Linked DNA regions of Homo sapiens. The protein of the gene in region 2 purifies or fractionates together with the protein of the main gene of each other region. This does not show direct contact. Each region holds a gene or a part of one and is shown on either strand. Other genes may lie near its edges.

Region 1 (3,749 bases), about 16 Mb from region 2:
CTCTGCTCTGAGGGACCATCTGTGGGGTGAGAAGAAATTGGGCTCAGTGCTTACCATGTGGAAAGGGAGGAAGGGCTCTCCACATGGGACACAAGGGACAGCCATGAAGGACAGAGGCTGACGAGACCTCCCAGGGTGAGCTCCTTCCAGCACTGGCTGGTACCTGTTGCTTCTGCAAATGTTCCCCAGACCCTCTGCACTCTCGCAGGTCAGAGTAAAAAAAGGTTGGATTCTTTCATTTTAAAAAAAGTTTGAGACAGGGTCTTACTCTGTCACCCAGGCTGGAGTGCAGTGGTGTGATCATGGCTTGCTGCAGCCTCAAACTCTTGGGTTCAAAGGATCCTCCCACTTCAGCCTCCTGAGCAGCTGAACTAAAGACGTGTACAACTGTGCTTGTTATATTTTTAAAAATAGAGACAAGGTCTAACTATGTTGCCCAGGCTGGTCTTGAACTCCTGATCTCAAGCAATCCTCCAGCCTTGGCCTCCCTAAGTGCTGGATTACAGGTGTGAGCCTCCACGCCCTGCCGGGGTTGGATTCTTTTTATTTTTTTAAATTTTTAAATTTTTTTTGAGACTGAGTCTCGCTCTGTCGTCCAGTGGCGCAATCTCAGCTAACTGCAACCTCCGCCTCCCGGGTTCAAGCAATTCTCCTGCCTCAGCCTCCTGAGTAGCCGGGTCTACAGGCGCACACCGCCACACCTGGCTAATTTTTTGTATTTTAGTAGAGACAGGGTTTCACCATGTTGCCCTGGCTGGTCTCGAACTCCTGAGCTCAGGCAATCCGCCCCCCACAGCCTCCCAAAGTGCTGGGATTACAGGCATGAGCCACTGCACCCGGCCTGGGTTCTTTATTAAAGCAATGAATTCTGGATGTCCTGGCTTAACTAGATTAAGAGGGAATGAAGCTTCTTCTGAAGGATCAGTGTTACCACAGCCATTTCCTTGCATTACACCGTCCTTCTCAGGACGTCTATGAGAAGCCCTGGGCAGCCTGGACAGGGACTGCCCCATGAGTGCTGGTGGCTCACTTGGGGCTTTCTGCAGGTGAAGGAAGCAGCCCTGGGAGCTTCTTCCTTTGGCACACAGTGGGCTTCAGCTGGGACTGCACCAATCCTCTGCTAACAGCAACCATCCTTGGGGGGTCCGAGGGAGCAGCTGCGTGACTTTTCAGCAGTGGCTATGGTCACTCCTGAGGCCTGGGAAGAGGGTCACTGTCCAGCAGAGCTGGCCTGCTCCAGAGTGATCTGGACCTTGTGCCCCTTAACACAAGAAGGCCCGACTCCAAAGGCCAACACTGTCCTCTAAGTTTCCAGGACACTAAATGGCCACTTGGTCCTGGTTAACTCATTTCTAAACACAAAGGGGACAGGTCTGAGAAAGTGGCGTTCTCTACCCTACCCTGAGCTCATCTGTTCTGAGGACAAAAGGGACGGGTGTGTCCAGGCTGGTGGCAAAGGCTGCATTTCCGGGGTTTCTTTGCTGTGGACCCCATGTCTGAGGAACTGGCCCGGGGCCTTTTGCTTCTGGCTTCCGACTCCAGGGTTCTTCCTCTGTCTCCTGTCCAGGACGGGGCTCCAGAAGTCCCTGTCGGGAGAGTCAGGGGAGGGGTGAGGTTAGAACTGACATGCAGAAGTGGCAAGTCCTGAACACGGTGGCTCATGCCTGTAATCCCAGCACTTTAGGAAGCTGAGGGAGGAGGATTGCTTGAGCCCAGGAGTTCAAGATCAGCCTGGGCAACATGGTGAAACCTTGTCTTTAAAAAATGCAAAAATTAGCCAGGTGTGGTGTATGCCTGTGGTCACAGCTACTCGGGAGGATGCCTGAGCCTGGGAGGCTACAGTGAGCTGTGATCACACCACTGCACTCCAGCCTGGGCAACAGAGCAAGACCCTGTCTCAAAAAAAAAAAAAAAAAAAAAAAGAGCAGCAGACGATAAGGCTGAACCAACTTTTTTTTTTTTTTTTTTTTTTTTTGAGATGGAGTCTTCGCTCTGTCACCCAGGCTGGAGTGTGGAGTGCAGTGGCGTGATCTCCACTCACTGCAAGCTCCACCTCCCGGGTTCACGCCATTCTCCTGCCTCAGCCTCCCGAGTAGCTGGGACTACAGGCACCCGCCACCACGCCCGGCTACTTTATTTTTTGTATTTTTAGTAGAGACGGGTTTCATCATGTTAGCCAGGATGGTCTCGATCTCCTAACCTTGTGATCCGCCCGCCTTGGCCTCCCGAAGTGCTGGGATTACAGGCGTGAGCCACCGTGCCCGGCCTTTTTTTTTTGAGGTGGAGTCTGGCTCTGTCGCCTAGGCTGGAATGCAGTGGTGCAATCTTGGCTCACTGCAAGCTCCGCCTCCCGGGTTCACGCCATTGTCCTGTCTCAGCCTCCCGAGAGTAGCTGGGACTACAGGGACCGACCACCATGCCCGGCTAATTGTTTGTATTTTTAGTAGAGACGGGGTTTCACTGTGTTAGCCAGGATGGTCTCGATCTCCTGACCTCGTGATCCACCCGCCTCGGCCTCCCAAAGTGCTGGGATTACAGGCATGAGCCACCGCGCCCGACCGGCTGAATCAGTTTTTATACAGCCATGTACACCCCACCAGCCAGCCTCCCTTCACACTGTGTCCAACTCTGTAAGGTTGAGGTGCGATGTGCCTGCTGCCTTATGTTACCTGACACCTCTCCCTCAAGAATCCTAAGCTTTGGAGACATTGTCCCACACTCACTTGGTAAGTGGACTTTCATGCCGGCCCTTTTTACAGAGGCAGAAACCCAAGCAAGCTGGCCTGTGTGGTAGGGTGGGAAAGACAAGCAGCCTATGACCGGCAACCTGCGGCCCACCTCCATGCAGGAAAGTCCAGCTCTGGATCCCTTCCTGTCCCCTCAACAGGCCTTTCCAGACCAGCTGCTCATTTACCCAGGACAGTCAGTCAGCCAGCCTGGAGGTCAGATACCATGTCCTTCCAAGTGGGGAGACAAGAGGCCAGACTGCATCTCACTTCAAATGTGGGTCTCTCACTGCAATGGCCATCTCTGGGCCCCATTAGCACTGGTAGCCAGTTCCAAGTCCCACAGTTTTTACCAAACCTCTGGTTTCTTTCTGTGCATGCCGGGCTAGTGACACATGTGTAAGAATCATAGTCTGAGACTAAACTCCTTTCTAAAACAGGAACCCTATGAATGTAGGCAGGGACCATCTTGTTGAGCAAACTTGAGGCAGAGAGGCTAAGTCATTTGTTCAAGGTTATACTGCTGAGCTTTGGAACCAGATTTGCTCAACTCCAAAGCTCCCACTAGGCCTTTGGGTCATTCTCAGCTACTTAAGCTCTGTTGTGCACTGGAGCAGGAGGAACCATTCAAAGTGCCTCCACGTACACCATTCAACTTGATGCAATGTCCAGGTGCCACTTCTCATGACACCCAGTTCCCGGACATTGGCCCAAGCTGTGTCACCCTGGGCAGGTTCCTAAATATCATCGGGGTTGGCATCTTCATCTGAAGAAATGAGGCTGGGCCAGGCACGGTGGCTCACGCCTGTAATCCCAGCACTTTGAGAGGCCAAGGCAGGTGGATCACCTGAGGTGGAGTTCGAGACCAGCCTAACCAACAGGGTGAAACCCCCGTCTCTACTAAAAATACAAAATTAGCTGTGCGTGGTGGTGCATGCCTGTAATCCCAGCTACCTGGGAGGCTGAGGCAGGAGAATCATTTGAACCTGGGAGGTGGAAGTTGCAGTGAACCAAGATTGCACC
Region 2 (3,749 bases):
GCCCAGGAGTTTGAGAGCAGCCTGGGCAACATGACACAACTCAGTCTCTACAAAAAATACAATTAGCCAGGTGTGGCAGCACCTGTAGTCCCAGCTTGGGAGCCTGGGGAGGTTGAGACTGCAGTGAGCTGTGATCAAGCCAGTGCACTCCAGCCTGAGTGACAGAATGAGACCCTGTCTCAAGTTAAAAAAAAAAGGAACATTCATGATTCATGGGAGGAGATCAAAATCCCAACATCAACGGGAGTTTGGAACAAGTTGATTCCAACCCTCAAGGTAGACACTGAGGCTTCAAGACTTTGGTGGAGGAGGGATCTGTAGATGTGACGAAAATAACGAGAGAACTAGAATTACAAATGGAGCCTGAAAATGGGCCTGAACTGCTGTAATCTCACGATCAAACTTGAACGGATAAGGAGCTGCTCCTTACGATGGGCAAGGAAAGTGCTTTCTTGAGATGAAATCTCTTGTGGTGAGAACGCTGTGAGCATTGTTGAAATGACGACAAAGGATTTAGAATTTGCATAAGCTTGGCTGATAAAGCAGTGACAGGACCTGAGAGGGAGAGACTCCAGTTTGAAAAAGTTCTCCTGTGGGTAAAATGCTGTCAAACAGCATCGCCGGCTATGGAGAAAGCTTTTGTGAAAGGAAGAGTCAACCAATGTGGCACACTTCACTGCTGTCTTATTTTAAGAAACTGCCAAAGACACGCCGATGTTCAGCAACCATCGCCGTGACTGCTCAGCCATCAACCCTGAAACAAACCCCCACCAGCAAGAAGATTACGACTCAGATGATTGTCAGCATTTTTCAGCAATAAAGTTTTTGTTTCAAGAGAAGGGGTCTTCCATGTTGCTCAGTCGAACTCCTGGGCTCATGTAATCCACCTGCCTCAGCCTCCTGGGTAGCTGGGATTACAGAGAACCGAAAGAGTGGGTGTCCCATGACAGGACAACGAGGATCTGTCCAGTGTTTAATTCTTGAGATGTTCTATAAGAGCACTTAAGAGCTGCTGTTGACAATGATGGATAAGGGTATACAGTGAAATGAGACAGGAGGAATGAAACCTACACTGTATATGATGAAAATAAAAGAGCAGGCGTAAAGGAGAAATAAATGATCTAAATACTAAACTGCTGGCAGAACACAGGCTTAGATCAAGATGGGAGGAGGGTCATTAAATACAAACACTGAAAGGAAAAAGCTGCAACTAAAAGTCAAATGTCAGGGCCAATCCTTGTCCGGGAATGCCGGCAGCTCTCAGCCTATGAGGTTAATACACTATTCTACAGCCAGGAACAGCACCCGTGAAACTGCCTCATGTCTGACCTGAGGCGGACTAACGCTCATCTCAAAAAACATCTTTTTGATATGTGGGCGCTTAAATTTGCAGGAAGGATCACAGGAAAGAAACGTGGACCCGAAAGCAGGTGATATTATACCACAAAGCTTGACTGTCACCCCTGCTCCAAGATCCCTCTAGGAATTGACTCTAAGAGTTCTTCAGACTCTCCTGCCTCCAGTCCCCTGAGGGGTAACACATATTCCCATGAGCACACCTGGCTGCTTCCCTCTGCCAGTGATTCTCAACCCCCATGCCACGCTCAGGTCACAGCCCCGGGTAAGAATTACGGCTCTGACAGCTGGTGCTGGAAACCAAGTTTCTAAATCCATCCTTCTGCACACTTTACAGCCCTTTGTGAAGGTGGTTAGGAATGCTGGGTACCTTGTCGCCTTGGCCCAGGTTCTCGGATTTGACCTCATACAAGGTTTTCCAGTTGGTGTTACTCCCTCCGACTCCGCCGCTCTTTAGATCAGAGATGGAAACACCATCTAAGGCTTGTCCTTCTGCGTCAAACCTGAAAACGTGAACGAATAACGATGACGAGCGCTTGATGTGACATGCTTCTGCTTCTCCACATGCAACTTGCTGCTACGCGACAGACACAGGTTTCCCACCACCCGCCCAGCTTTCACACAGGTCACGGTCATGTCGGCTGAAGCTGGTATCTTCGTAATTATATATTTTTTATAATATTTAAATTAAAAAAAATTGTGTCAGAGTTTCACTCTGTCACCCAGGCTGGAGTGCAATGATGCAATCATGGCTCAAGGCAGCTTTGACCCCCTGAGCTCAGTGATCCTCCCACCTTTGCCCTGCTAAGTAACTGGGACTTCCATGCCCAGGCCCATTAAAAAAATTTTTTTTAGGCTGGGCGCAGTGGCTCATGCCTGTAACCCCAGCATTTTGGGAGGATGAGGCGGGCGGATCACGAGGTCAAGAGATCAAGACTATCCTGGCCAACATGGTGAAACCCCGTCTCTACTAAAAATACAAAATTAGCCGGGCGTGGTGGTGGGTGCCTGTAATCCCAGCTACTCGGGAGGCTGAGGCAGGAGAATCACTTGTAGGCAATTCTCAGGAGGCGGAGGTTGCAGTGAGCCGAGATGGCGCCATTGCACTCCAGCCTGGGCAACAAGACCGAAACTCCGTCTCGAAAAAAAAATTTTTTTAAGAGATGGGGTCTTGCTCTGTTGGCCAGGCTGATCTCAAACTCCTGGACTCAGACAATCCTCCTCCCTCGGCCTCCCAAAGTGCTGGGATTACAGGGCGTGAGGCACTGCTCCTGGCCCAAAGTCTACTGAAGAAACGGAATGACCTTTCTTTGAATCTCAGTTGCTTTGATGCCCCCCAGTGGTGAAGAGAATCAGTGCCAAAGTACCAAAGAATCTTTTCTTAAACTAGCCTTGCATATTGGCAGTGGCCAGACCACCCCAGGCCTAAAATCAGAAACTGGGAAAGTCAACAACCCGTAAGCTATAAAGTGGCCGTCTGGGGTAGTCCTTTAATCTGCTAATGCTCATTCTCAGGCAGCAGCTGCGTGGTGATCATCACCGAAATGTACCAGTGTGGAAACGGACAGCCAATATACCGTGGTAGCAAAAGTGTTTCCATAAAAGGCCTCCTATGCCTGATACAGAAGCCAAAAGTGGTTTTTTTGTTTTGAGACAGAGTCTTGCTTTGTCACCCAGGATGGAGTGTGGTGGTACCAACTTGGCTCGCTGCAACCTCCACCTCCTGGCAAGTGATTCTCGTGCCTCAGCCTCCCGAGTAGCTGGGACTACAGGCACGCACCGAGTAGCTGGGACTACAGGCCCGGCTGATTTTTGTATTTTTTGTAGAGACGAGGTTTCACCATGTTGGCCAGGCTGGTCTTGAACTCCTGGCCTCAAGCAATTGTCCACCTCGGCCTCCCAAAGTGCTGGAATTAAGGTATGAGCCACCGTGCCTGGCCCAAAAGATTTTATAAACCAGAGCAACTTATCAGAAGGCATTATCTTTTTTCTTGTAGATTTACCTTCTTAGTGAAATTTTACTTTTGCTAATATCGAAGCTAAATTAATTTGTATTAAATTATTATGAAAACTGATTGTACTTCTTGATCACACATCAATTGATATGAAGGAAAAGGGGCCAAGGAGAAAGTGGCTCGGGAACACAGTGGTGGCGGAGAGGAGCTGGCCGGAGATGAAAGGCCAAATACCATCCCAAGGTGGGTAACCACACAAAGAACAGGTTCCTTAAACAGAGACCATCTAACAGAATGGATGTTACCCTGAGCTGCAGACAGCTGCCTTCTCCTGTCAGGTAAGCGGCTAAATCCCTCACAGGGGCACAGCAAGGCCCATCCATCTGTTTCACCACTACTAGCTACACAAGTTCACGGTTTCAAAAGCTCCAAGGAGAC

What was found. Proteins that work in one complex are often made in the same cells at the same time.
Region 1: the proteins of RPA1 (region 2) and TOP3A purify together in Homo sapiens (affinity purification with mass spectrometry; 4 studies listed by BioGRID and IntAct, with this or other methods). This does not show direct contact.

Annotation. Positions count from the first base shown.
Region 1 is NC_000017.11:18,273,395-18,277,143, forward strand, and holds part of TOP3A (DNA topoisomerase 3-alpha), read right to left. Parts: intron 1,587-3,749; coding exon 1,408-1,586; 3' UTR 1-1,407. UniProt on the Homo sapiens protein: Releases the supercoiling and torsional tension of DNA introduced during the DNA replication and transcription by transiently cleaving and rejoining one strand of the DNA duplex.
Region 2 is NC_000017.11:1,881,922-1,885,670, reverse strand, and holds part of RPA1 (replication protein A 70 kDa DNA-binding subunit), read right to left. Parts: intron 1,860-3,749; coding exon 1,727-1,859; intron 1-1,726. UniProt on the Homo sapiens protein: As part of the heterotrimeric replication protein A complex (RPA/RP-A), binds and stabilizes single-stranded DNA intermediates that form during DNA replication or upon DNA stress.